Homo sapiens: one gene and its partners. The protein of the gene in region 3 binds, or shares a complex with, the protein of the main gene of each other region. Each region holds a gene or a part of one and is shown on either strand. Other genes may lie near its edges. The genes, in order: SRRM1, BUD13, CWC15, CWC22, GPKOW, SNW1 and PPIL2.

What was found.
Region 1: CWC15 (region 3) and SRRM1 share a complex: the UniProt entries of both Homo sapiens proteins name them as parts of the minor spliceosome.
Region 2: CWC15 (region 3) and BUD13 share a complex: the UniProt entries of both Homo sapiens proteins name them as parts of the minor spliceosome.
Region 4: CWC15 (region 3) and CWC22 share a complex: the UniProt entries of both Homo sapiens proteins name them as parts of the minor spliceosome.
Region 5: CWC15 (region 3) and GPKOW share a complex: the UniProt entries of both Homo sapiens proteins name them as parts of the minor spliceosome.
Region 6: CWC15 (region 3) and SNW1 share a complex: the UniProt entries of both Homo sapiens proteins name them as parts of the minor spliceosome.
Region 7: CWC15 (region 3) and PPIL2 share a complex: the UniProt entries of both Homo sapiens proteins name them as parts of the minor spliceosome.

What each region holds. Positions count from the first base shown.
Region 1 is NC_000001.11:24,656,714-24,660,817, forward strand, and holds part of SRRM1 (serine/arginine repetitive matrix protein 1), read left to right. Parts: intron 1-4,005; coding exon 4,006-4,086; intron 4,087-4,104. UniProt on the Homo sapiens protein: Part of pre- and post-splicing multiprotein mRNP complexes. As a component of the minor spliceosome, involved in the splicing of U12-type introns in pre-mRNAs. Involved in numerous pre-mRNA processing events.
Region 2 is NC_000011.10:116,762,988-116,767,091, reverse strand, and holds part of BUD13 (BUD13 homolog), read left to right. Parts: intron 1-1,645; coding exon 1,646-1,730; intron 1,731-3,825; coding exon 3,826-4,104. UniProt on the Homo sapiens protein: Involved in pre-mRNA splicing as component of the activated spliceosome. As a component of the minor spliceosome, involved in the splicing of U12-type introns in pre-mRNAs.
Region 3 is NC_000011.10:94,963,327-94,967,430, forward strand, and holds part of CWC15 (spliceosome-associated protein CWC15 homolog), read right to left. Parts: intron 3,088-4,104; coding exon 2,969-3,087; intron 189-2,968; coding exon 59-188; 3' UTR 1-58. UniProt on the Homo sapiens protein: Involved in pre-mRNA splicing as component of the spliceosome. Component of the PRP19-CDC5L complex that forms an integral part of the spliceosome and is required for activating pre-mRNA splicing.
Region 4 is NC_000002.12:179,968,864-179,972,967, reverse strand, and holds part of CWC22 (pre-mRNA-splicing factor CWC22 homolog), read left to right. Parts: intron 1-1,891; coding exon 1,892-2,027; intron 2,028-2,111; coding exon 2,112-2,318; intron 2,319-2,404; coding exon 2,405-2,467; intron 2,468-4,104. UniProt on the Homo sapiens protein: Required for pre-mRNA splicing as component of the spliceosome. As a component of the minor spliceosome, involved in the splicing of U12-type introns in pre-mRNAs. Promotes exon-junction complex (EJC) assembly.
Region 5 is NC_000023.11:49,113,415-49,117,518, reverse strand, and holds part of GPKOW (G-patch domain and KOW motifs-containing protein), read left to right. Parts: intron 1-356; coding exon 357-489; intron 490-1,195; coding exon 1,196-1,298; intron 1,299-1,504; coding exon 1,505-1,628; intron 1,629-1,723; coding exon 1,724-1,793; intron 1,794-3,580; coding exon 3,581-3,666; intron 3,667-3,763; coding exon 3,764-3,898; 3' UTR 3,899-4,104. UniProt on the Homo sapiens protein: RNA-binding protein involved in pre-mRNA splicing. As a component of the minor spliceosome, involved in the splicing of U12-type introns in pre-mRNAs.
Region 6 is NC_000014.9:77,736,733-77,740,836, reverse strand, and holds part of SNW1 (SNW domain-containing protein 1), read left to right. Parts: intron 1-1,775; coding exon 1,776-1,871; intron 1,872-1,952; coding exon 1,953-2,059; intron 2,060-3,761; coding exon 3,762-3,866; intron 3,867-4,104. UniProt on the Homo sapiens protein: Involved in pre-mRNA splicing as component of the spliceosome. As a component of the minor spliceosome, involved in the splicing of U12-type introns in pre-mRNAs.
Region 7 is NC_000022.11:21,682,855-21,686,958, reverse strand, and holds part of PPIL2 (RING-type E3 ubiquitin-protein ligase PPIL2), read right to left. Parts: intron 3,778-4,104; coding exon 3,702-3,777; intron 2,207-3,701; coding exon 2,046-2,206; intron 477-2,045; coding exon 401-476; intron 68-400; coding exon 1-67. UniProt on the Homo sapiens protein: Has a ubiquitin-protein ligase activity acting as an E3 ubiquitin protein ligase or as an ubiquitin-ubiquitin ligase promoting elongation of ubiquitin chains on substrates.

The DNA of each region.
Region 1 (4,104 bases), on a different chromosome or scaffold from region 3:
CATCAAGTGATGATTTTTTTCTATTTATATCATATAGCCTAAGAGTTGCAAAAGTACCTGAACAGAGGGACCAATCCTTGTTAAAATAGGTTGATTGTTAAGAATTATTAGGTACTTTTAAAAAGCATCTGCACAGATGCTAATTTCTTGTGTTTTGGCATATACTTTTTGCAAACAAGACAAGAGTGGATATGTACATAGGAAAGAAGTAAGCCATGGTGAAAATAAGTATTTCTGTGGGTTTTGGGACAGGGCTTCCGTGTTCAAACAACCTACCCAAAGAGAGGCACTACAGGCAGTGTAGTCAGTCTCCCCTGTGACCACTGGAGCTGAATATTGGTTTGACCTACTTGGAAATAACCTCTCCCCACCACCCCGCTAAATAGAGCCAGCATCTCACTCTGTCACTCGGGCTGGAGTGCAGTGGCCCAGTCATAGCTCACTGCAGCCTCCAACCCCTGGGATTACAAGTGTGAGCCACCACACCCGGCCCAGACAACCTTTTATATTAAACTGATCCCAGCCCTCTGTGATGAAATTTCAGAGCTAGAAAAGACCTTAACAGTTGTCATCAAGAAACAGATTTTCAGGTTAGTTGACTTGGTCAAGGTCAACCAACTAGGAATAAAACTTGAGTTGTCATTCCCAGTTAAATAGTGAATACTTTTCACAACTTTCCTACCCCAGAACTCTTCTTTGATTGCTAAAGGTGAGAAATGGAGGGCAGGGTTGAAATTCTTTAGCTTCTCTATCTGGTAGTATGATTTCAGAAATTACTTTGCAGTTTCTGCTGCTTAGAACAGTAACATCATTGAAATGTAATAGATATTACAGTTAATATTTTCCCTAGTGGCCACTAATCAGGGCTTTAGGGCTCTGCTCTTGATAGTGGGCAAATGGAGTGGGAGGGAGGCAGGAAAAGTGTTTTGGGGAACTTACAGGTTAATTATTTGGAATACAGTATACAGTCATCTGAAGGGATCTTAGGGGAAACATTTGTAATTACTGACATTTCATAAATTGGCATTATCTTAGTACATAAAATAGTGCTTGAAATCAGTGGCACAGTCAGCGAAGTATGTTAACATGATCAATACTGGTGGTGACGGTGTGGTAATTTTGATTTATTTAGATTAGCTTGGCCACATACATTGTGCTATCTGGACACTTAAATGGTTATTTTACTATTGTTGGTCACAGAGTAACTTATCTTTATAAGTGATCTTTTGGGCAGGTCTAAGATTAATAATTAATAGGACTGTTGGAGTAAATTTAAAATTGTGGTTTTAAAGTTGCCTTCTACGATTTCTGACTTCATGCTAGAATGATTTTGTCCCTTGAATACTTAAAACAACATTAACATAAAGTAAATGGTGTAAAGTCTCATCTAGAAAAATAGAAATCTGAAGTGCTGTTATAATATTAATAATGCTGTGATTCAATTGTATTAAACCAGAGTAGGAGTATATAAATGATAGTTGTTTGATGGTATAAATTTTTTTTTTTTTTTTTTTGGAGACGGAGTCTTGCTCTGTCGCCCAGGCTGGAGTGCAATGGTGCAGTCTTGGCTCACTGCAACCTCTGCCTCCCAGGTTCAAGCAATTCTCCTGCCTCAGCCTCACGAGTAGCTGGGATTACAGGCACATGCCACCACACCCAGCTAATACAAATGTATTAATAAAGACTACTTTAGCTGAGTAATTAGTGAGAAATTGAATCAGGATGCAACTCCAGATGTGTATTTCCACTGGGGGAGAATGGAAATAATGTTAAATTCACTTGTATTATATAATGAGTAGGCTTTTGCCAACTATCTTGTAAGCATAACCACATTTTTAATGTTTCTTAGGGGAAAATGTATCCAAACAATCAGCTTCCAAAGCAAGCTTGGGAACCCAGTTCTCTAAGGTGTGGTAACTTGGACATGCACTTTTTAACGACGTGCCCATAATATCTTTGCAGAAATTGAGGATTAAGTAACACTTAAAAATAGAGAATATGGACTTAGAAAAAGAGCCTCAAATAGTTAACAATTTTAAAATATTTTTATTTCTTTGAATTTGTTAAAATATAAGTATTAAGTATAGTTTGCTATTTGCACTGTCATGATTCCTGATATCTAATTGAGTGATAGCCATTCTTTACCCAATCCAGTGATTTGTCCAAATGGCTTATTACGTAGAAATTTTAAGAAAAGTCGCTGGGCGCGGTGGCTCACGCCTGTAATCCCAGCACTTTGGGAGGCAGAGGTGGGTGGATCACCCGAGGTTGGGAGTTCAAGACCCGCGTGACCAACATGGAGAAACCCTGTCTCTACTAAAAATACAAAATTAGCCGGGCGTGGTTGGCGCATGCCTGTAATCCCAGCTACTCAGGTGGCTGAGGCAGGAGAATCCCTTGAACCCGGGAGGCGGAGGTTGCAGTGAGCCGAGATCATGCCATTGCACTCCAGCCTAGGCAACAAGAGCGAAACTCTGTCTCAAAAAAAAAAAAAGAGAGAGAAAGGGAAAAGTCTGTTCATTGAAAAGGCATACTGGTAAATTCTTCATTTTGACTTCTTTAGCAAAGATGCGATTACTGTGTTAGATCACTGGTTCTCTAATTACTGCCCCTTGGAATAAACCATTACAGAATTCTGAATGTGAGTGTCTGTTAAATGAGATGTATCTGTATTCTGAGTCAAACATTCCATGGCAATTGCTTTAATCACACAAAACAGGTATCAGGATCCTGAGAGGATCAAATTGTCTGTAGGTTTATTTCTTATTGGGATGTTCTCAAGTGGTGTTTTAGGTTAATTTATGGTATATATATGTTTATATGTGAATATACTTATGATTTTAGTTGTAGCAATGGATAGATACTATAAGCAGAGTTAGTTGTTGAGATTAAAACCCATGGCCTAAAAATAGATTCTTGGATTCACATCTTAGCTCACTTAAATTGTCTTTGTGACTGAGGTGAAGTTGCTTCTTTTTAAGCCTCAGGTTTCCTCTCTTGTGAAATGGAACAGGGAGAAAGGGATGTGATACTACTGTGTTAATAGTGTGTCTAATACAGCAGGCTTACAAAAGGTAGTTACCATATTTCTATGTTATTGGTAAAAGACAATTGGATAATTCATAGGATACCCACTGCTCTCCTACTACTTGAGGTATAGAAATGCCTTTTTTTCTTTCTAGCTCTTTGGAAAGAATCCTCGTCTTTGTATTTAATCATTTTTACTATTTGTGGCGGTCTGCTTTTTTTCATGGGTAGTTTAAATCCCCTGTGCTATTGTGAAGATTATGCTCTACATAAAGAACCTTTAACCTGTTGGGCAGTCATTCTTCTTTTCTAGACCAAATATCTTTGTGAAAGTTTCATGAGATCTTATTTCTTAATCATTTATCATCTTTTACTTTTCTGAACCCACCTATTGTGGTTGCTTAAAAGCTTTCATGTTGATGAAGTCTCTGAAGTTGAGTGTGAGGGAGTGAGTGTGGGTGTGGAGGGTGTGTATTTTAGATTGTGGAGCTCGTGTAGCACACAGAGGTTTACTTTACTGAGCTTGTTCTACTCAGTAGCAGCTCCCAATTTCCTTTAACTGTTGGTTTTCTTGGGAGAATCTCAAGATTTGAAAATCATTGTAGAACTTTTTGAGGCTTTTCATTAAACATTTAAAAATTCTTGTCTCACTTCAGATAATGTTCAGATATGACAACAAGGTCTTACAGGAATTTTTTAAGTCTTCATAAATTCTTTTTGAGAGTAGTCACACCCATTTTTGTAATAGCAGGAAGGCATCTTGGCTGGGCACAGTGGCTTGTGCCTGTAATCCCAACACTTTGGGAGGCTCAGGCAGGAGGATTGCTTGAGGTCAGGAGTTCAAGACTAGCCTGACTAATATAGTGAGACCCCATCTTTATTTAAAAATAATAATAAATTTTTAAAAATTAAAAGAAAAGCATCTTGTATAGACCTTTTTTTGTACGTAAGCTTTTTTCCACTCTTATTCTTTTTTAGTGACAAAACATAAAGGTACTGAGAAAAGAGAATCCCCTTCACCAGCACCGAAGCCTAGAAAAGTAGAGTTATCTGAATCGGGTAAGTTTGTTGTTTTTT
Region 2 (4,104 bases), about 22 Mb from region 3:
CTCAGCCTCCCAAATAGCTGGGATTACAGGCGCCTGCCACCATGCCCAGCTAATTTTTGTGTTTTTGGTAGAGACGGGGTTTCACCGTGTTGCCTAGGCTGGTCATGAACTCCTGGGCTCAAGCAATCCACCCGCCTCAGCCTCCCAAAGTGCTAGGATTACAGGAATGAGCCACCGCACCTGGCCATTTTCTTTTATAATATTGTCTTGCTTTTATGATGGCCCAAAAACCTAAACAAAGGAGGCTTTAGTGCCACTGCTCTCTGCATTGGTTAAAACAGATCTTGATTACTGAATTCATTTTTGTAACTGCAAGATCACCACCACCACCAGTAATAATGGTAAAACGATTATGATGATTACGATAGCAGTGGCAGCACAGGAATAATTAATAGGTGTCATTTATTGGGCATTTATCATGTACCAAGCATGGCTAAGCTTACGTGAATTATCTCATTCAATCCTTATAGCAATCCTTTGAATCCCACTTTTACAAATGAGGAAATTGAGGCTTAGAATAATTTACCAAAGGTTACACAAATGCTAAGTGGCCGAGCTGGGGTTTAGATCTTAATTCATCTTGCCCGAAACCTGTGCTTTTAACGCTCAGTGAGAGATCTCAAAACTGGGTTATATGAAGAATGATGGTAGGATTTTGGGAGAAGTAGAGGGCTATTATGACCTGGATTTAAATTCCAGTTCTGCCACTTGTTAGCTTGTGACATTGAGAAAGTTACTGAACTTCTCCGAATCAGTTTGCTATTCAGTAGTGTGGAGCCTTTCTTTACAGGATTATTGTGAGAATCGAGTTAGATTATATGAGTAAACCACAAAACACAGTACCTTGCACATAGTTGCTACTCTGTAACTAGGATTTATTATGCCAGCAATCTTGAAAGTTTGTCATGTGGACTTACATCACAGGTCAGAACTAGAATGAATTCAAAGAAGTTATAGGAAGGCAGATACGGTACTAGTAAAACTAAGAACTTTCTAACATTTTTGAAAAATGCAGTGGACTGTGTTGTAAGATAATGAGTTCCTTGTCAGGAAGGGATTGGGCGAGTGACCACTTATTAGGAATACTATAGAGAAGATTCTGATTTGTTCAGAAGTTTAGAAGATATGAAATGTGGTTTTAGCTCTTAAAGATTAATGATTCTGTGTACATCTCAGTGGCTCTTTTTGGTTGTATTCAAGAAAACCTATCACTGTGACTACCTACAACAAGAAAGGATTCATAGAAACCCAAAGTCCTTGATTAGTGCTAGGCATGATGGGGGGAGCCACCTATGTTTCCACTGTTAATGTAGAAGTAAAAGTGTAAAAGGAATTTAGTTGTTAGTTTACAAGTGGCTGTTGTGTACCTAGCAGGTTAATAAAAAGGTTTGTAATGAAAAAAATTAACCTTTGCAGGGTAATTGATTAATTAGAGAAGGATCTACAATTAAACCAATACAGTGACAATCAGATGTTTATGGAGCAAACATAACTGAAGACCCCTACTTACTTCTTCATGACCATTTTGGATATATGTACGCCCTTGTGTTAGGAATCGGAATGGTTGTAACTTCAGGTTCTTGAGACAGTGCTTCTTGGCTGGATCCTGTGGATTTCCTAAGATAGGAAATCTTTACTCTCACAGGTGGCAGAGTTTGTGGATGAGCGGCCAGAAGAGGTAAAGCAGATGGAGGCCTTTCGTTCCAGTGCCAAATGGAAGCTTCTGGGAGGTGAGTTCCAACAATAGATAAATCTAAATTTCCATTAGTAGGGGAGATCTTTTTTCCTTTTCTATACTTTTCTTTAGAGGAATGCATAGTTTGTTTTAGCATGTCATTGATCCTGAAAAATAAAGCAGGAAAAAGGAAGTTGGACTTCTTCAGAGGTAGTAAGACATAGGAACTTATAGACCAGATATTCCTCTTTCTCTTATATTTTGGCATTAGGATTACTGAGGTTGGTGACTAATTTGGAGGCCTTTGAGCACCCATTCCTCTTTGACTCAGAATAGGAGAGCACTTGGTGTATAGGCAAGACTTTGGGAGGAGTTTACAAGAAACAGGAGCAGAATTTGGGGACTTTAGCTACCACTATCCTCTTCCACAATGAAGCAACTCATTTCTGGGGGGTCAAGGACCAGTGTATTTTGTTCTGTTTGTGTTAGTAAATTTCTCTCTTCTTTCCTTAAGTATTGGTGTTTTATAGTGCATTACCCTCCACTTGCCCACTTTGGACTCTTCCTAAGCTAATAATCTTAATTTAACTCTCTTTAAAAAAATTTGAGTCCTTGAGAATTGGATAAAAAGCATTTGTTTGTCACATCTGTTTGAGCATAGACTAGTCTTATTTGCCATGATATTCCCCTATCTAGCACAAGGAGCTACCTTTAATAAATATTTGTAGAATTGTTTAATTGCTAGTAGGTATTTGATTTTTGTAGCCTAATCAGAATTCTTTTCCAAAGAGAATCTTTTGGTCTCCATGTCTGTTTGTCTAGGAAGACACACAGACACACACATACACACGGTGCCTTTTCTTGTGTATCTGAATGTTTAGAAGGTCAGTCACACACACACACAGTCACACTCACACTCACTCACTCCTTTTCTTCTGCCTTGCTTTCACTCCCCCATCCCAATTTGTTATTGGAAGTACGCTTACCAATCTCTGACCCTTGCTTCCTTCAGATTTACTGTTAGGCCCCCCACAGACATCATACTTTTCTCTGTGGAGTGGATTCCAATCAGATAGGGCTGTTCCCCAAAGTAAAGGAGTTGACTTGGTTTAATTCATCCATTTAACAAGTATTCATCAGTTCCTACCCAGCTTTTATTTGTATTTGGGCTGTGGAGCTCAATGACAAGAAATAGAGGTAGAGGAAGAACTGGATTTTGAAACTGTTCCAGTTGCTATAGATATTTCATTCTGTGGTGCCTTTGAATATGGAAGGTCTCAAACTATGTATTTTAACTTTAAAGCTTTACATATTTTAAAGATTGCACATGGACTCTGGAGTCAAATAGAGCTGGATTTAAATATTCCTCTACCACTTATTAGCAATATGACTTTGGCAAGTTAATCTTTCTGAGTATCAACTTCCTCATCTATAAATGAAATGACAGTATTTATGTCCTAGGCTTGTTGTGAGAATTGAATCAGGTAATCTCTATGAAACACTGGCACACAGTAGGTGATTGGTAATTACTTGCTCCTTTCTTTTTTATGGTGATTTTTCCCCTCTCTAAGAAAGAGCACAGTGAAATGGATTAAATAGTTAACAGCATTTTATTTTGATATTCACCGTTTTAGTCAATTTACCTATTGAAAGAAGAGTGAGTACAAACTATAAAGTATCTAGGCAAAATATCAGTAGGAGCCACTAGCTGGGAACTCTGCACAAATGAGGTTTTAGAAAGAACATTGGACTGGGAGTTAGAAGACTTGGATTCTAGCCTGTGTCTTCATTTTAGGAGCTGTGACCTTAGGTAAGAAATCACTCAGCTCCTCAGCTGAAAACAGAGGCTGTGGCCTCTGTTTTCATGCTGTAATACAAGGGTACCTGCCCTGCTTACCTTAAAGGGTATAATATGAAAAATGTGCTGAAAATGCTTTGCAAATTTATGACTTGGTAGGCGGAGGGGTTATTCTTAAGATATTCATGAGTGGTGGTTTGCTGCCCCTAAGCAAGAAAACTGTGCAGGCCTTTTGGGCTTTCTGAGCAGTTCTGAGGTATGTGCTACTGGAGCATCTTTTGAAACTGGGTGTGGGGGTGGACAGAGGGACAGAGCATTTGTGGGAATCTGACTCTTTGTTATTTGTGTTTAGGCCACAACGAAGACCTACCCTCAAACAGACATTTTCGTCACGATACCCCGGATTCATCTCCTAGGAGGGTCCGTCATGGTACCCCAGATCCATCTCCTAGGAAGGACCGTCATGACACCCCGGATCCATCTCCTAGGAGGGCCCGTCATGACACCCCGGATCCTTCTCCCCTCAGAGGGGCTCGTCATGACTCAGACACATCTCCTCCCAGGAGGATCCGTCATGACTCCTCAGACACTTCACCCCCAAGGAGGGCCCGTCATGATTCTCCAGATCCTT
Region 3 (4,104 bases):
AAAAAGTCAGAATGATCCTTTACGTTTTACAGTCTTTAATTAAGCACATAAAACTGTACTATTTAATATATTTCTCCATGAACTTTTTGTGAAATTCAGATCGCAGTGTGTCATTTACAAATCTTTTGTCTTTCTTCTGGTCATCTACACCTTTTGCACAGTTCTTGAAGACAACGTCATCATCCCACCTGAGGAAAAAAAAGCAAACAGAACGTCTGAAAATGTTTGTATCAGGAGACAAGAATACTACATGCACTGCAAGGCTTAGTCAGTTACACAGAAAGATGCTCAACATGTGTATCATCTGATGCAGCAATTACACTCAAAAGAATAATGTCATCCTTAATATATAATCTTGCTTTCTTATAGCAAGAATGGCAATTCCTACTTAGAACATTAAAACATTCTTATTATTTCTCCAGTAAAAGAAACTTTTGAGTTAAAAAATAGAAATATATAGATTTTAATTGCATAAATATTTAATGTTTTTAGGTCTAATAGAAAGAAGCAGCACCGAGGACTACCCTAATATTAGTGTAGGCATCTGTACATGATAGTAGCCAATCAATTTAATGTAGTTTATGTGGTTTTGGGGATTGTAGATATTCCTCTTTTATCAGTTAATGTTTAGTAATCATCTACTGTAATATCCACATTATAGGCCAACAAAAGGAGAAGGAATCATTGGGGTATAATAATTAAGGCTCAGATATGGCCCACATATACATTAACCAAGGAGAAGTACCAGCTGAAGAGCTCAGAGCAGAACTCTGGTTGGATTCCATAATGTATAAGCACGAAAAAAAAACACCCATAAATAAGTTATAAAATACATGTGTTATAGAAAATAAAGAGCATGATTTCAGAATATCACCTAGCATATAAAACACAGGCCCATATACATAATATTGATACCCTCACAAATATATATATAACACAAGCCCATATGTGTGTGTTTATGTGTGCATGCGCTTACACGTCAGGAGAAACTGCACATGGGAACAAATGTGGGAAAGTGCACAATGAGCAACAAACGTGGGCACCTTTGGAAAACAGTGCAGTAAAGTCATCACTGATGCAGTACACAGAAGCATAACAAGCTGAGCAGATCAATATGACTGGGATATAAGACATGTTTCTATCTCCAATTCCATTTACATTCAAAAAAGGCAAAAGAACAAACTATATAGCTTTATTTTTGTATATAATCAGTACAGTTTTTTCTGTATCCAGTCTTTCCTCAACTCCAAACAGGCTTTTTGTCCCTCCTTCCCAACACCAAAATGCTCTTTCCTGACATTAGTATTTGTCCTCGATGATCACTCCTCTCCTCCTGAAACACTTTGTTTCACTTCTTTCAGTTCTCCTCCCTTCCCAACTGGCTGCTCCTTGTTAGCCTAGACTTTTTCATTCAAAATTAACTCAATCAATATTTATCAGGCACTTGTATAATGTTTAGAGGCTGGCTAGATGATTAGAACAGGTACTGGTAACTAATAATCTACCTAACCTCTAAACATACCAAGCTCAGTTCTGACTTCTCCTCTCTAGCTATACCCTTCCCTAGGTGACTTCATCCTGTCTTATGGCTTTAAAAAGTTTATCTGAGCTGATAACTTCCAAATCTACTATCTCCAGCTTGGACTAATTCCCGAACTGTATCAGGAGTACTGCATCACTCCAGAGGGGAGAGCAGTCAGCAGTACTGCATCACTCCAGAGGGGAAAGCGGTCAGCAGTACTACATCACTCCAAAGGGGAGGGCAGGTAGCAGTAATGCATCACTCCAGAGGGGAAAGCATTCAGCAGTACTGCATCACTCCAGAGAGGAGGGCAGGTAGCAGTACTGCATCACTCCAGAAGGGAAAGCAGTCAGCAGTACTGCATCACTCCAGATGGCAGATAACAGCAGTAGAGGTGGTGAAAAATAACGAATATGGTTTAAAAATTAAGCACTGTGGTTCCTTGACGAATGCATATAAAATAACAACCAATCTTCCTCCCTCAGCATTTCCTGTAAGCTTTTCTGTTTTATTTTATATATCACCATCTGAAGGATTTACAGTATTTACAACTTATATTTTCTCCCTTTTCAGCCCTCCTTTTTTACCCCTCCAAACACACACACACTGTACAGAATTTAAAAAGCAGGCCTAGTACTACAATCCTTAGAAATGCCTGCTTGCAAGGCTGGCCCCTGGCTGGCATTTGAAAATTTGGATCTAAGAAATCTTCTGTCACTGTGCCTATAATTTACAAATAATGTGGTTTACACTGAACACCTACTATCCTTTTAGGAGTCTGGACTTTGGTATGTGCTAAGCAAAAGCTGCGTACATGACTAGCCACTCCCAGTAAAAACCTTGGGCGCGGGATCTTTAATGGGCTTCCCTGGGCAGAAGCACTGCACACGTTGCTGCACTGTCCTTGCTGGGGGAAACAATGTGCTGTGTGACCACTCATGGAAGGGACAGAGCATAGTGACACCTGCACATGGATTCCTCTATTCTCTGTGTGTGTCTTTTCCCTTTATAATCTAGCTGTGTGTCTTTATTACCTTAGCCAAGCATATTAACTATACACCAAGTCCCCTGAGTTCTTCTAGTGAGTGTCTGAATGTGAGAGGCCATCTTGAGGACCCTTGATATGCACACCTAAAATGTAAGGGCCTCAGTTTATTACTCTGTCCCTAGTGCTTACATCATTATCTAGTACACAGCTGGTTATTGCAACTATCTATTGAAAATAAGTTTATTTTCTTTCATTTGGCTTCTTCCATTATTCCTAATTGAACAGAGAAGAGTATCAGTGAATGGACGGTGGACTTTTAGAAGCTTTTTACAATGCACCTTGCTATCCAACTTATAATCTGCATGCCTGTGTGTATACACATACACATATACACACACACACACACACACACACACACACACACACACACACTCCATTACTCCGTTACTGTATAGTACCTTCTTTTAACTTTGAAGTTGGCCTGAGGCTGGGATGGGCCAGTGAGATTAAGGAGAGGGTTTCCGCTCAGAATGTTTTCCATACGAATCCTCTCTTCTTCAGCTTTTTGTTCTTGTTCCTGTCAATGATAAAGGAAGATTAACACTTACTTATTTTAACTCTGGGTTCAATTTTTTTTATATTAGCTCACTGAAAAAAAAAACAAAACTGATCATTAGGATTTTATGGCAACAAAAGCATCAAGGCAGGCTTTTTTTTTTTTTTTTTGGTTTTTGAGGCATACTAGAAAAGTCTCCCTCATCAAAATAAAATAATTTAGCATTTTTATTATAAATATTTCATGGTTGATATCATACAGTAATTAGTCTCTTCCAACTGTGAAATGCTACAGATCCATATTTAAATCTATTTTCTTTCTTGAAGTACATGTCAAATTAATTGCTTTAAATTTTAAGCATATATCAATAAGCATATTCTAATAATTTAAGAACATATTGAATATCAAAAAGACACATTTAGCAAAACTATTACCTTCATTTTAAAGGGTCATACCTAACTGTGATTAATTTTAATCTTATTTTGAATTACTAATAATGTAAACTTGTGTCTCTAGGTTTGGTGACAAGTTATGAATGAAGAAGTAACTCCTAAAATAGGACAAACTACCATATACAAAATTATATCCAGTTAACATGAATTTCTACTAATTTACCTGAGGTTGATCTATTTTGTTTTTATTGTCTTACTGAGTTTTTCTTTTTTTTTTTTTTGAGACGGAGTCTCACTGTTGCCCAGGCTGGAGTGCAATGGCATGATCTCAGCTCACTGCAACCTCCACCTCCCAGGTTCAAGTGATTCTCCTGCCTCAGCCTCTGGCACGTGCCATCATGCCCGGCTAATTTTTGTATTTTTAGTAGAGACGTCATTTCACCATGTTGGCCAGGCTGGTCTCGAACTCCTGACCTCGTGATCCGTTCACCTCGGCCTCCCAAAGTGCTGAGATTACAGGCGTGAGCCACCGTGCCCGGCCTCAGTTTCTATTTTTATACCTCCCATCCTTTATCAGTTACAACACTGTCTTTCTTCACTTTTATTTTAGCATCAACTTCTTCAAAGTCAAATCACCCTGAGTTTC
Region 4 (4,104 bases), on a different chromosome or scaffold from region 3:
GCACAATCTTGGCTCACTGCAAGCTCTGCCTCCTGGGTTCACACCATTCTCCTGCCTCAGCCTCCCGAGTAGCTGGGACTACGGGCACCTGCCACCACGCCCGGCTAGTTTTTTTTGTATTTTTAGTAGAGACGGGGTTTCACCATGTTAGCCAGGATGGTCTCGATCTCCTGAACTCGTGATCCACCAGCCTCGGCCTCCCAAAGTGTTGAGATTACAGGTGTGAGCCACCACGCCTGGCCATATTTAATATTCTTTAATATAACACTTTGATGCTGATCAAAACACTTTAGATATTTATCAAATTAATCTGACTTAATACTGTACATGGTTACTTGACTGCAAACCATTCCTTTGAAGAACCATTCCCTTCATTTTTATAAAACAATAAAGTTGGTATCTCCTCCACTTCATTCCCTGCTGTTCATGAGAATCTAATAAATATCTGATATTCTACAAAAACCTCTATTCCTTGCAACCACACAGGTATAGTCATATATTTTTAGAATCACTTGATAGAATAGAGTTGATCGATTTTAATCTGTTTCAAATGCAGGTAATTTTATCATGCTGTTATTCAGTTTGTGTTTATTTTATATTCATTATTTGATGGTTTTGATTTAGCTTTTATTTAACCATGAAAATGCTAAAATTGTCCTTGCTCATACTCAAAAGTTTCCTTCAGATATATATTATCATTTCCAATTTAATATCATGTATAACAGGAAGAATTTTAAAGTCATGCTTAGTCTTATTTCACTAATATTAAATATTTTGATTCTTATTTACATGAAAATTCTTTCACTCTTACAAATCTTTTAGATTTTGACCTAATTAGTCATCATATTATTACAGTGATAACTTGCTACTTAAGACCATGGAAACTTAATTTCACATCTGTAACCAGAGATATATTTCCGTTTTTAAATGTGTATTACACTTAGACTAGAGATTTTTGGCATTGCCATGAAACACTCGATATGATAAATTTTTTGCATCTTCCAGCTGTGGTACAGGGCAGTATTTTCTTGTCACTGACCTAAGACTGTTTGACACCCCTCCTCCCCTAGTAAAAAGAAGTAGTGGGTGTCTTTGATGTTGTGCACAGCTGGAAGAAGATATCTCCTGAGTTGAGATTTAGACTTCTTTCCTCACCATCTTAAATCACTGTCTGACTTTAGAAAGGCATATGTATGGTGTTTTAAACATTCTTTGTTGTTCGTTTTCTTCTCTTAGCAAACTTCTCAATAGAATTTTATTCCCACTCTTCCTGGCATTGTTTATAAATGTCAGTTTTTGAACGTGGCCAGTAATAGTTTGATTTAATTTTTTAAAAAAAGATAGACTATTCAAAACTGTTGTGTTCCAGAAGTTGTTAAGATATTTTGTGATAAAATTAGTATTCATGTAACTTAAGGACTATTTGTGTCTAATAGAGTTGCTGATAGAATGAATTGGGAAATGTATATAAAGAATTGTGATCATGGAGAAGGGTATTATAAATCATATTACTATTTCTTATGTAGTAATTATGAAAATAATTACCTTATTAGAAAGTAGTATATGATTTTTAACATATTTTATCTATGACACTTTCCGTACATAATGGCTAAGAATATTTCTTCTGAAGATAATTCAAATAGTTGTATTCAGCATAGAAAATTAAGATTTTTGAAACAGTCATCTGAAAATTCTTAGTAGACAGATAATAAAAGTGATAGAAAAATTGTATCCCATATTTGGAGTATTTCCATGTGCTTTATAAAACTTTGCCCATCATATGTGCAATATAATTATTGTAAACAGATTTACTAATTTTTAGAAATTATAAAAATAATTTAATGTATGTAAAAGCATTTTGTTTCTTCCTTGTATATGTATTTTATTTAAGGCACACGAAGTATTATGCTTAGAGATGCTCACTTTGCTCCTGGAAAGACCAACAGATGATAGCGTTGAAGTAGCTATTGGTTTTCTTAAGGAATGTGGCCTCAAATTAACACAAGTGTCACCAAGAGGAATCAATGGTAAGTGTACATTCATAGTTTGATGTTAAGTTTTTATTATATTTATTGCTTATTTTATTGTCTTTTCTTTCTGTTAACTTTTAGCTATATTTGAACGCCTTCGAAACATTCTGCATGAGTCTGAAATTGACAAAAGAGTTCAATATATGATTGAAGTGATGTTTGCTGTACGGAAAGATGGATTCAAGGACCACCCCATTATCCTAGAAGGTCTTGATTTGGTGGAAGAAGATGATCAATTCACTCATATGCTCCCTCTGGAGGATGACTATAATCCAGAAGATGTTCTTAGTAAGTCCGGGGCATGTTAGTTGGAAAGAGGCTTACCAACAAATGTAAATATAGAAAATAAACATTAACTTTTACATTTTTTTTAGATGTTTTCAAGATGGATCCTAATTTTATGGAGAATGAAGAGAAGTACAAAGCTATTAAGAAAGGTATGTAAAATTTTATAAAATAATTTAGTTTGGATAAGTAGAAGCAATTTAAGTAGTTACGTAATACTGATAGCAAATATTTAGAGATCCCCACCTAATGAATCGCTGCTCTTATAAAGTTATTCTCTTAGCTGTTTCCTCGGGCATTATTTTTTTCCTGGTGCTTGCCCAGGGTTTTTTACTTCATTCTGAATTACTTACCCCATTGTTCTTTCCTCTTTCCCTCTAAACTATGCAACACTTACGTCTCACCCATCTTAAGAAATATTCATAGATTAGTGGTGGCCTTTATTTAGCTTCTCTACCATTTACATTCTGTGCCACCCAGTTTAGTATTCAATTAAGTGGTATACTTTATTGTAAAGTGCTATACTTTATTGTTTCTTGAGGTCAGGTTAATATCCTTCTGGTAGGATGAATCATAGTATTGGTGCCTCTCTGATAAAATAAATTGATCATTTTCATTTGTACATCATTGGTATATTGTAAGTACTAACTTTGGACAGGTTTTGATGTGTAATTTATCTTTGACATTACTAGCTGAGTGACCTGTAGCAAGTTACTTGTTTGTTGGAAGACTAAATGTTACCTTTCTATGGAAGGATATATAAAACACAGTGTTGTGTATTATCACCTACAATGATAGCTATTATTAGTTACTATTTTCACATTTGTATTATTTTCCTCCTAAAGCTAACACTCAGGCCTACTTACATAATAATTTTATGGGCTTATTTCTCTTGAGTTGTAATTTTACTGGAGAAGTATTTATTGCTGTGGAAGCAATAAAATTTACCTTTGTATTAAACCCCAAAAGTTTGTATTAAAAGCTCTCTGATTATAATAGAAATGTAAAGAGTTGGTTAGCTTTGCAAAATCTTTTATCAGGCTAACAGCACCATTGGGCAAAATGTAATTTTAGTTTTTGTCATTTGTTTGCTTTTAACATAAAGACCAGCCTTATGTAGTCTCATATACAGAGAAAGCAGAAACCTAGAACTCTGTCTCTGTCTGCATTCCATTGTTCAGTAGTGCTTAGAAGTAGAAGGTTGAAATGAAAAGTAAAATTGGGAGAAATCTTCCATTCCTCTGCATTATCCTAAAAACCTGTTATAATAATGAGTTTCTCTTCTTAGATGCTGATTTCCTAGGAGCTTTTCACTGTAATATGCCAGATTCTTTTTTTCTGTTATAATTTCATTTCCAAACAGAGAACTCCATAGATCCATTTTGCCTTCTTTTCTTATGAACCTCTTTTCCTACAGTCTCCCTGAAAAATGCCAAATGTTTTTTGTGAAATTCTTAGATACACCTGATTTGATTTCTTTCTTTTTTAAACTTGAGAATTCTCTATCCATTTCTTTAGCATCTAGGCAATTGGCCAATGCCTGGAAAGTAGTACTTTCTTTTATTATAGCAGTTCTCAAATTCTTTCGTCTCAGGATCCCTTTACACTCTTGAAAATTATTGGCAACTCCAAAGAGCTTCTTTTTATGTGGGTTGTATCTATTGCTATTTACTATATTAAAGGTTAAAACAATATAAAAGAATATTTATTAAATTATTTCAGAATAATAGCAAACCTAGTATATGTTAACATAAATTACATATTTTTATGAAAATCGTTATTTTACGGG
Region 5 (4,104 bases), on a different chromosome or scaffold from region 3:
GGATTTGAGGTAGAAAGGCTGGGACTCCTAGTCTTTTAGGTCTGCTTGGCCCACTGCCTCACTCAGTAACCCAGGACCACTTGCTGGCCTTTGTGAGCCTCAGTTCCCAGCTAAAAGGAAGAGAATGCCATATGCCACAAGTCCCTGAAGATTAAATGCTTAAAGGATCCAAGGAAGCCCCACAGTCAGCTGAGGGAGACACAGGAACCAGACCTGGTCCCACTTCTCAGGGGTCAGAGTCTGGTTGGGGAGACAGAGGAAGCAGGCCTCTTAGAGGTAAGGGGTTGACATCTTGGTCCTAGGAATGTGGGTGGAGTCCACAACCCCTACCTGACTTCTTCCCCTCAACACTTTAGGTGGAAGGCCTTGATCCTGACAATGTTCGGGCCATGGTTCGTCTGGCTGTGGGGAGCCGGGTGGTGACTGTTAGTGAGTACTACCTGCGGCCTGTCTCCCAGCAGGAGTTTGACAAGAACACCTTGGATCTCAGTGAGTGAGCCTCTTGTAGAGCTAGGGGAGTTGGCAACGCATTCCTAGGGGTGGCAGGGCCTGGCTAATGGGGTGGTTTTAGATCTGCAGCAGGGAGGGGCAGCAGTGTGCCTGGCAGATATGACTTCCAATCAGAGGTCAGGAGGTGAGAATGGACATAAGTGACTTACTCCATTTGATTGGAGAAAGGTCGATGTCATACCCCTGGGTCTGTAGCCTGTCTGAGTGAGAAGAAACAGGTGCAGAAACCAATTCCTACCTTCGAGATCTTTGTCCATTTGGGGTGATGAACCTCTCTTTTACTAGGGAGTGAGAACTGCTAGGATTAGGGTGTGACCAAGAAGGAAGGAATTCTAGGCAGACAGAACAGCACAGGCGAAGGCGTTTCGGTAGGACGGGGCAGTTTGGCAAATGGGTACAGACAGAGCTCTCTGGGAATCTCTAGTCCACACTAGGTGAGCATTGTTGTTGTGGGCTAGGTTGGCTGCGGGAGGGTTCCTGAAGGAAGCTGAAATGGTTGAGAGGTGGGGGAGAGGCATTCTACTAGCAAATGCATGAGGGGTGAGAGGGGCACTTTGGCAGGTGGGAGGTGGCTCTAGGCTGAGACATGGCCTTGGAAGGAAAGGGCAGTGAGACACTGAGGCTCTGTCCTGGTTCTCCTCATAACCTCTTGAACAGGCCAGATGAGCAAAACTTCCTTCCCCAGGGCAACAGAACGGAACTGCCTCATCACGGAAGACCCTCTGGAATCAAGAACTCTACATCCAGCAGGACAACTCAGAGAGGAAGCGGAAACACCTTCCAGACCGGTGGGACTCTGAGCATGCGGGAGGGGTCAAGAAGGCAGGGCTGTGGGTAGGCTCGAGCAGCCAGGGAAGGCTTCCAAGGCAAGGCGGGCTCATAGAAGGAACGGGGAACTGCATTGTGGGTGGGTTTCATAGCATAGGCAAAGGGAGGGCAACTGGAAAGTGCATCTGATGAAGAGCTAAGCCTGGTGCTGGCACCTTCTCCACAGACAGGATGGGCCTGCAGCCAAGAGTGAGAAAGCAGCCCCCAGAAGTCAGCACTGGTTGCACAGGGACCTGCGTGTGCGGTTTGTGGACAACATGTACAAAGGAGGCCAATATTACAACACCAAGGTGGGAACCCTGCAGCCTGAGTCCCCCTCCCTCTCCTAGGGACTGGGCCCCCCTACCTCTCTAAAATCTCACATCCCCCTGACCTGTATCCCCAGATGATAATTGAAGATGTCCTAAGCCCAGATACCTGTGTATGTCGGACAGATGAAGGCCGAGTCCTGGAAGGTGAGTTTGAGCGATGGCAGCTGGAGGTTGATCAAGAAGAGTGTTTTAGGCCCAGAGCCTGGCCCAGGCAAAGCTGGGAGGTTTGGCAGAGTTCAGGTATTTTGCAAGGCCTAGCATCCTCTTACAGAACATTAGACACTTCCATGATGGTGGTTGGTTATCTTGAGCCCCACTCTCCCAGTCTGTCAAGTTTTCTTTTTTTTCTTTTTTTTTTTTTTTGAGACAGAGTCTCACTCTGTCACCCAGGCTGGAGTGCAGTGGCGTGATCTCAGCTCACTGCAACCTCCACTTCCCAGGTTCAAGCGATTTTCCTGCCTCAGCCTCCCGAGTAGCTGGGATTACAGGCAAGCGTCACCACACCTGGCTAATTTTTGTGTTTTTAGTAGAGACAGGGTTTCACCATGTTGACCATGCTGGTCTTGGAACTCCTGACCTTAAGTGATCCTCCCACCTCGGCCTCCCAAAGTGCTGGGATTACAAGCGTGAGCCACCGCGCTCGGCCTCCGGTCTGTCAAATTAGCATGGAATTTACTATTTCTTCCTCTTGTGATTGGTGCCTTAGTGAAGGAATGTGTATTGAGCTCTCAGTGCAGGGCAGGGGTTAAAACATGCCCACAATAAAAGGTGCCTGTTGTTATCACCACCACCCTTTATTACAGTGATTTTTGTAAACTACTCCTTAGGCTACCTCATCTGTGAAATGGATGTGGCGGGACTCCCATCTGTCAACAGGGTGTAGAGTGGCTCCAGGGAATACAGGAAAGGCCCTTCTTTTTTTTTTTTTTTTTTTTTTTTTTTTTTTTGAAACAGAGTCACTCTGTCACCCAGGCTGGAGTGCAGTGACGCAATCTTGGCTCACTGCAACCTCCGCCTCCCGGGTTCAAGCTATTCTTCTGCCTCAGCCTCCTGAGTAGCTGGAACTACAGGTGCCCGCTACCACACCCAGCTAATTTTGGTATTTTTAATAGAGACAGGTTTTCACCATATTGGCCAAGCTGGTCTTGAACCCCTTACCTCGTGATCCTCCTGCCTCAGCCTCCCAAAGTGCTGGGATTACAGGCATGAGCCACCACACCCAGCTGAAAGGCCCTTCTTTTTTTTTTTTTTCTTTTTTTTTTTTTGAGATTGGGTCTCATTTTATCACCTATGCTGGAGTGCAGTGGCACCATCATGGATCACTGCCACCTCAAATTCCTGGTTTCAAGCCATCCTCTCACCTCAGCCTCCTGAGTAGCTGGGACTGCAGGCACTGACCACCATGCCTGGCTAATTTTAAAATTTTTTGTAGGCTGGGCGCGGTGGCTCATGCCTGTAATCCCAGCACTTTGGGAGACCGAGGAGGGTGGATCACCTGAGGTCAGGAGTTTGAGACCAGCCTGACCAACATGTCAAAACCCCATCTCTACTAAAAATACAAAATTAGCCAAACGCAGTAGTGGGTGCCTGTAATCCCAGCTACTCAGGAGGCTGAGGCAGGAGAATCGTTTGAACCCAGGAGGCGGAGGTTGCAGTGAGCCAAGACCACACCATTGCACTCCAGCCTGGGCAACAAGAGCCAAACTCAGTCTCAAAAAACAAAACAAAAAAATCTGTAGAGATGAGGTCTGACCATCTTGCCCAGGTTGGTCTCGAACTCCTGGGCTCAAGCGATCCTCCCAACTTAGCCTCCCAAAGTGCTGGGACTACAGGTGTGAGCCACCACGCCTGGCCAGGAAAGGCCCTTCTGACAGGACGCTGGTTGGGCTGGTCCTTGCTGTGGGCCTCACTCCCCTCTCCCTTATCCATAGGCCTGAGGGAAGACATGCTGGAGACCCTGGTTCCCAAGGCAGAGGGTGACCGTGTGATGGTGGTGCTGGGCCCACAGACTGGAAGGGTGAGTCTCAGACCTGGCAGTAGAGGTTTGTGGGTCGTTCAGGGCCTGTCCCAGGGTCTAGGCTTGCCTTGCTGATTCCACTTCACCTCTGTTCCAGGTGGGACATTTGCTGAGCCGGGACAGAGCACGGAGCCGGGCTTTGGTGCAACTGCCAAGAGAAAATCAGGTGGTGGAGCTTCACTACGATGCCATCTGCCAGTACATGGGCCCTAGTGACACAGATGATGACTGACCCATGGGACTCCTCCCATCCCCCAGGCTGGTACCAGTTCTGTACCATATGAGAAAGTTGCCTTCAGAAGGTGGGAAGATCATTGTTCCATCCTCTACTTCTGGTGCAGTCCTGGGACAAGGACAAGGGAAAGGGATGGGTGAACCAGTAGGGAAGCTAGAAACAAACCCAATATTTACCAAAATTTAGGGTATAATAAAAACCAT
Region 6 (4,104 bases), on a different chromosome or scaffold from region 3:
GCGTGAGCCACCGTGCCCTCCCCGTTTTTATTGTTTTAATACGGGAGACAGATAATAACCATGTAAAGTAGATAATTTCATGCTGTGAACAGTCTTGATCACAGTAAACAGTGCTATGGAGCAAATGATTGGGTGGGGAGGGGTTACTACTAAGGCAATCAGAAGAAGCCTCGATAATGGAGGACCTTTGATCTGAGACACACAGATTGAGAGCTTACTTGAAGAATGATAAACAGAACTCTGTAAAGGCCTAGAATTGGGGAAAAGTATGTTATGTTCAAGAAACAGAAGATGAGCTAGTGTGACTGAAGCATAATGAGTGAGAGAGTGAGAGTTGTAAGGGGAGATTGAAGGCATAGGCAAAGTCAGGTCAAGTTGCATAAGCCATAAAGTGGCTCACACTTTTTTGCTCTGTTTGGAGTAGAAAATTAGAAATAGCATGCATTTCCTTTAAACTTTTTTAATGAATGATGTATGATAGACTTATTAATATAAGACTTTGGCTTGTAGTGGTAAACAGTTCTACAAAAAAAAATTCTGGAGATCTCAAGTGCCTAGGAATTTGATTTTCTTTGATATTTATAAGTTGTCCTTTCTTTTTATGTACCTCAAAGAATTTCTGACTAAAGCATTAAAGGTAGAATGCCTATTATTTATTGAATTTTCTGTATCTCTCTCTTTTTTTTTTTTTTTTTTTTTTTAATATACAGTGTCTTGCTCTGTCACCCAGGCTGGAGTGCAGTGACGCAATCTTGGCTTACTGCAAGCTCTTCCTCCCGGGTTAAAGCCATTCTCCTGCCTCAGCCTCCCGAGTAGCTGGGACTACAGGCGCCTGCCACCACAACTGGCTAATTTTTTGTATTTTTAGTAGAGACGGGGTTTCACCATGTTAGCTAGTATGGTTTCGATCTCCTGACCACATGATCCAGCCACCTCAGCCTCCCAAAGTGCTGGGATTACAGGCGTGAGCCACCGCGCCCGGCCCCTCTGTATCTCTTTTTTACTTTAAAATATGCCATGTAAATTGTTATGAAAATATTTAAGAAGTATAGATGGACCTGAAAGTAACCAGTATTCTATTTGTTAAGAGCCTACCACATCAGTGTCAGCCTAATAGAAACCATGTTGGGCATAGTAGAAGTCATATAACAGGCCTCAATTTGGATAATGGATATAAAATAAGTTGTATATATAGAATATATTTTTCTTTTTCTTTTTTTTTTTCTTTTGTCTTCTCATGGAAGAAAGCATTCTGGGTTTTTTAACTGTGGCACATGTTTATTTTCTTAGTCTGTGAATAGAGTTGATGGCAGAAAAGAGAAGCGTTATAAATAGGATGAGGTCAATAAAATTTTTCAGGCCCAGTGAATTTGGAAATTATTTGGTAACCTGACTTAAATTCTGATGAGTTTGTAATCCAGGTTAATGGTGCTATAGGCAATTTGTATTATCATTAATTTCAAGTTTTAGTGGGCCTCAAAAATAGTGATCATCAATGCATGATTTTGTTGGCATGGTTTATTTGGATACTAACTTGATTAGAAGATCTCAAACAATTTAAATGCATGAGGTCAAGGGAAAATTACTAACTTACAGCCAGGGTAGCAATTTGTTTATATATTTTAAGCTTCCTTGGTTTTAAAATCTAAAAGAGAAAATCTGAGTGTCCTAAATTTTTAAGTGTGCTGAGAGGGCATGTTGACATCTGAAATGGCTAATGAGGTTTCTTTTCGTTGTTTGCTTTTCTTAAGCCTGCTTGTGTTTGAACATTTTAGGTCATTTATAGCAAATACACTGACCTGGTTCCAAAGGAGGTTATGAATGCAGATGATCCAGACCTGCAAAGGCCCGATGAAGAAGCTATTAAAGAGGTAACTGGGAATTGATATATTCGATGACTATTTACATCCTGATTAACTTCCAAACTCTCAATGTGATATTTCCTATTTCAGATAACAGAAAAGACAAGAGTAGCCTTAGAAAAATCTGTATCACAGAAGGTCGCCGCAGCCATGCCAGTTCGAGCAGCTGACAAATTGGCTCCTGCTCAGTATATCCGGTATGAATCATGCCTAGAAGACTTAGTTTCATTCTGAACTTGATTCAGCTTGGGGGGTCATGGTATTCTTTCACTAACCCACTTAGCAACCATTATAAATGCATTGTTTTCAATAATGACTCAAAGCCTGTCTACTGTCTTTGCAGACAATTGAAAGCAGAATTTTTTAAGGTGTCCACTTTGGTTTTTGTTTGTTTTCTGAGATAAAGTTTCTGTGTTGCCCAGGCTGGAGTACGGTGACACCAACACAGCTCACTGCAGCCCCCACCTCCTGGGCTCAGGTGATCCTCCTGCCTTGATGCCACCATGCCTGGCTAATATTTTAATTTTTTGTAGAGACAGGGTCTCGCTGTGATGCTCAGGCTGTTTTCGAACTCCTGGGCTCAAGCAGTCCTCCTGCCTTGTCATCCCAAAGTGCTGAGATTACAGACTTGAGCCACCAGACTTGGCCTCTTTTTATGCTTTTTTTTGGGGTGGGGGACAGAATCTTGCTCTGTTGCCCAGGCTGGAGTGCAGTGGTGTGATCTTGGCTCACTGTAACCTCTGCCTCCCAAGAGATTCTTCTGCCTCAGCCTCCTGAGTAGCTGGGATTACAGGTGCCCACCACCATACCTGGCTAATTTTTGTATTTTTTTTAGTAGAGACAGGGTTTCACCATGTTGGCCAGGCTGGTCTCGAACTCCTGAACTCAAATGATCCATCCTCCTCAGGTCCCAAAGTGCTGGGATTATAGGCGTGAGCCACTGTGCCCAGCCTATGCTATTTTCTTTTTTTTTTTTTTTTTTTGAGATGGAGTCTCACTCTGTCACCCAGGCTGGAATGCAGTGGCACAATCTTGGCTCACTGCAACCTCTGCCTCCTGGGTTCAAGCGATTCTCCTGCCTCAACCTCCTGAGTAGCTGGGATTACAGGCTTGCACCACCATGCTCAGCTAATTTTTGTATTTTTAGTAGAGACAGGGTTTCACCACGTTGGCCAAGGCTGGTCTCAAACTCCTGACCTCAGATGATCTGCCCACCTCGGCCTCCCAATGTGCTGGGATTACAGGCATGAGCCACCCGGCCTGGCCCTATGCTATTTTCAAATTATATTTTTTGTTTTTAGAAATTAACAGTTACTTGTGGTATATGACCTAAATCACAATTATTATTTATAGTTTTCCATTTATAAGTAATAGATATCTTTATAATACTTCTAAATTTTGAGGCGTTTTACTTGACTAAATCTGCATAGAGAATTGAATCACATACAGATATTGAGGAAAAATTCAGAGCTGGTAGGGCTGCTGTCATTATTCTTTTCTCTGTTTTATAACCTATGATTAATCAAAAACTGCTAACCGTAAGTTGCCTGCTGGGATTATTATGAGTGTTTTTTCCTCAGATGCAGGCATACTAAATAGGTACTATTTTCTAGACTGCTTATCTGTGAAACTGAACACGGCACCTTCCATGTTGGAAAACATATGAGGATGGGTTATTTGCAAACTAATACCACTCAAGTTTATATTTTGACTGTAACTCATAATTTATGTTCTTTTATCCCTCTTGCTGTCTGCTTTGTCTAAATATTTTGTTAATTTTCTGTTAATACTTTGCGAAAGGAATTGAAAATGTAGTCTAGCTTAAGATTGTAATAGAAGGAAAATACCTACTGAAAGCTTGAACTAATTACACCTTTAGTTTTTATCTGCTTTCTTCAGATACACACCATCTCAGCAAGGAGTGGCATTCAACTCTGGAGCTAAACAGAGGGTTATTCGGATGGTAGAAATGCAGAAAGATCCAATGGAGCCTCCAAGGTTCAAGTAAGTGAAAAGGAATAGGCTACTAATACACACAATAACATGGATGAATCTCAAAACAATATGCTGAGTGAAAGAAGCCAGGCAAAAACAAGTACATACAGTATGATTCCATTTATCTAAAACTCCAGGAAATGCAAACTAACCTATAGTTACAGAAAGTAGATAGGTGGTTGCCTCTGGGGAAGGAGGTAGGGACAGAGAGGAGATGGGAGGGACAAGAGGAATAGGCAAGGGGCAA
Region 7 (4,104 bases), on a different chromosome or scaffold from region 3:
GTGTGCAGCCGCACGTAGCCCTTCTTCTTCACAAACTGGTAGCGCAGCACATCCTCGTCGATGGCAGCTACAAGCCAAGGTCCCAGCTCAGCCCCTGCCCTCACCCTGGGGCAGCCCCACCATGCCAGGCAGCACCGACCTCAGACACACAGGCGGGGACTAGGCTCCAGCTCTGGGGAGAGCAGGGGAGCTGGAGGCCGAGGGTCTGCTTAGGCCACGCACAGGCTCACCCCAGCCTCATGGGGCTGGCAGGGGTTCAGCAGCTAAGAGGGGGAGGACTAGGGGCTCAGGTGACAGTGGGAGCCCCTGACAGACCAATAAAGTGGGAGTCGGGGAGCACACCCACCCCCTGCCACTTTTGGGTCACATGGCAGGTGGCTACAGAGGCCAAGGTGGCTACCTGCTTCATGTGTGGTCTCCGGGACCATCGCGGTGGAGGTGAAGGAAGCGCTGACCTTCCCTGTGGAATAGTGGGCCTGCCAAGGAAACCAGGGTGGCACCTCAGCAGTGCCATGGGAGGCAGTTGGGTGGGGACGTGTCGCTTGCCTAGAAGCCAACCACACGCCACCCCTGCCCCCCAGGCCCTGCTTGGTGCCTCTCCTCCAGGAGGGCCTCCCCAACCAGCAGGAGGAAGAAGCCAAGGCTAGGCCAAGCCAGGGTCCCCTGGCCTCCACTGGATCCCGACTCTTATGATATCAGGTGAAACCCTGGAGATAAAATACCACACAGGACTGGCCACCTCAGGGTTAGGAGTGTATGGCTGACTTCTCATTTATTTTTATTTTAATTTTTTTATGAGACAAGGTCTTGCTCTGTACCCAGGCTGGAGTGCAGTGGTGTGTGATCCTGGTGCACTGCAGCCTCCAACTCCTGGGCTCAAGTGACCCTCCGACCTCAGCCTCCTGAGTAGCTGGGACGACAGGCGCATGCCACCACGCCTGGCTGATTTTTTGTAGAGATAAGGTCTCACTATGTTGTCTAACCTAGTCTTGATCTCCTGGCCTCAAGCAATCCTCCTGCCTCAGCCTCCCAAAATGCTGGGATTACAGGTGTGAGCCACCACGCCTGGCCTCATTTCTTTTTAAAAGTTTCAAACTTTCTACACTAAACACATTACATATTTAATCAGGGGTCGGGGAAAAGCCCCAATAAATGTTATTTTTTATCATAGAGGAAGAAAAAGGGGTTTCTCCCATCAGAAGAAAATACAAGCCAGGCACAGTGGCTCACACCTGTAATTCCAGCACTTTCGGAGGCCAAGGCAGGAGGCTCTCACTTGAAGCCAGGAATTCAAGACCAGCTTAGACAACATAGCAAGATCCTGTTTCCAAAAGAAAAAAAAAAGTAATATATCAAAGTGCTAAGGGCAGTGTGTTAGACGGAGTGACACACTGGACAACAAGCTTTCTTTTTCAAATTTTCCAGAATTTGAATAATTCTTTAAGAAGGAGAACTTCAGAGCTACCTGCCCATGTCTCTGCCCTCCCCCTAGCTCCAGATCCCCATGCTCTGCCTGACAGGAGGAAGAAGCAAACACGACAGCCCCAGACAGGTGGCACCGTGCAGTCCCAGGCATGCCATCCACGTCAGCACCGCAGCAGACCATGAAACGCCCCAACTCTCCCTGGCATGGCTTTGGGCCCCAGTGCACATCGGGCCCTGCCCTCCCAGCCACCACAGAACCACATGTGCCCGCTCAACGTGCCTGCCCTGGCTACTGAGCTCAGGCTGGGACCACAGCACAAGGCAGACCTTCTGTGGCAGGGATCTCCCCTACATGCCCCCACACACCCCTTGGTTCTTCAACGACCAGTGTGGACATCAGCCCCTCCCCTTCTGCCTTCTCAGATTCTATCTGCCTCAGGGCAGCCCCAGGGCTGTGCACTCAGAGCCATCAGGGGCACCACAGCTCTGGGGGATCCTGGCTGCCTCCCTGCCGTGTATCCCAGGCCCCCATGAGCCCCTTTCCCAGGACCACTCCAAGAGGCCATGAGATGGGCAGGAAGACGGGGCTTGGGCTTGGCCGAGTGCCCTCCGCCACTCACAGCGTTCAGCTTGTCCACTTTCTTCTTCTCCGGGGCCTTCATGGTGGCTGCCAGAATCTCGTCCCCTTTGAACTCCTTGTAGAGCTCCTGCAGGGTCTCTCGGGTCTCGGCATTTGTATTTTTCAGATAATAAGACGGGTCCTGTTTGGCCTTCTCTTCATCTACAAAACAGTAGCATGGCCCTGAGCCGCCGAGCCCCCAGTAGCCTCCCCACACACGTGCTGGGGACACAGATCTAGAATAGCCCAGGGCCGTCCAGCCATGGCGCAGGCACCGTGCCACTGCCAGCCACAGAATGCCACAGTGCCCCGCTACAGGCCTGAAGGTCTCCCCAGGCAGTTCACAAGGGTCTCAGGATGGACTTCAGGTTGATTTGTATATTTTATATTTATCTGTATATTCTAATCTTTTTAGAGTATACGCTTTGCTTTTTTTTTCTTTTTTTTTTTTTTTTTTTTTGTGGAGATGGAGTCTCGCTCTATCGTCCAGGCTGGAGTGCAGTGGTGCAATCTCGGCTCACTGCAAGTTCTGCCTCCCAGGTTCACGCCATTCTCCTGCCTCAGCCTCCTGAGTAGCTGGGACTACAGGCGCCCGCCACCACGCCCGGCTAATTTTTTTGTGTTACAATCTTGTAACCTCGTGATCCGCCTGCCTCAGCCTCCCAAAGTGCTGGGATTACAGGCGTGACCCACCGCGCCCAGCCTTTTGAGACAGGGTCTAGCTCTGTCGCCCCAGCTAGAAAGCGGTTGCAAGATCTCAGCTCACTGTAGCCTCCACCTCCTGGGCTCAATCGATTCTCCTGCCTCAGCCCCCCAAGTAGCTGGGGCTACAGGCGCACCAACTACACCCAGCTAATTTTTCTATTTTTTGTAGAGACAGGGTGTCCCCATGTTGCCCAGGCTGGTCTCGAACTCTTGAGCTCAAGCAATCCGCCTGCCTTGGCCTCCCAAAGTGCTGGGGTTACAGGCATAAGCCACCACACCCAGTTGCTTTGCTTCTGTAATTTTAAAGGTTATTTTTATTTAAAATAATAGAAGTGTTTGGGGGTCTTTCCAGATGTGAAATCACCCATTCTTGCCGACTCAGGAGGGTGCCTGCTGCCTACTGGGCCTTGGACAGCAGCCCACCCTGTGGAGAGGGGCCGGCATCCCTGTGCAGAGAGCACAGACACGGCCCAGCCCCAACCCTGACCTCAGGCTCTCCTGACTCAAATCTTCCCCAGTTCACGTGCTCAGCCTACCTAAAACCCGTTCAAACAATGCTCACAAAGTGCCCAGGCCACTGCTCTGCAGCACAAGGCCGAGTGACCTCTGAACATGAGTCCTGCTGGCTCCTCCAAGGCTGCAGGACAGCCACCAGAGGCCAGGGAAACAGGAGGACCCCATCACCCCACCACCTGCCCACTGACAGCACCGGCCAGTCTGCAGGGAGCAGGGGAACCTGAGCAGGTGTGCTGGCAGGGCAGCAAGTCTATCCCGCCCATTGTTTCTGAGGCTGCAGTTGGCTCAGATTCTCTGAACACTAGTTCAGAAAATGCAGGGCCTGTCTGGGCTGGGACCCCCTGACCTCCAGGAAAGCGGGGGCTTTACCCAGGGAGCACTGTCCCAATTTCATCCAAAAGCCCCCTCGCCTAGCCCAGCCCCTAGGTGTACATACCTGGGTCTATTATTTTCATGTTATTCTTCACATGATAGAAGTTAGAGACATTGAACTTGTCCAAATTGGTGGGGTCCTGTGGCAAAAAGAGAATGCCCAGCAGAGTGAACCCAGCCTACGGCCAAATGGCAGCCACATGCAGCAAAGGACGGCCAGCTGTCAGAGGTGTGGAAGAGGCCAGGGCTACACTGAGGTTGGGGGAGTCAAGCAGGGCATGAGGGAGGAGGTGGTCTGCCCCAGGCAGGGCAGCAAACAGGGGCAGGGGCAGGGACGGGGACGCAGCCTCGCTAGCTGCTGGCTGAGCTGTGACCTTCCTCCAGGCACATGGCTAACGAGCATTCATTGCTGTTAGGGAGCTATCGGACCGGAACGTGGGCAGCCGTGGGCCGACCTCTGGTTAGAA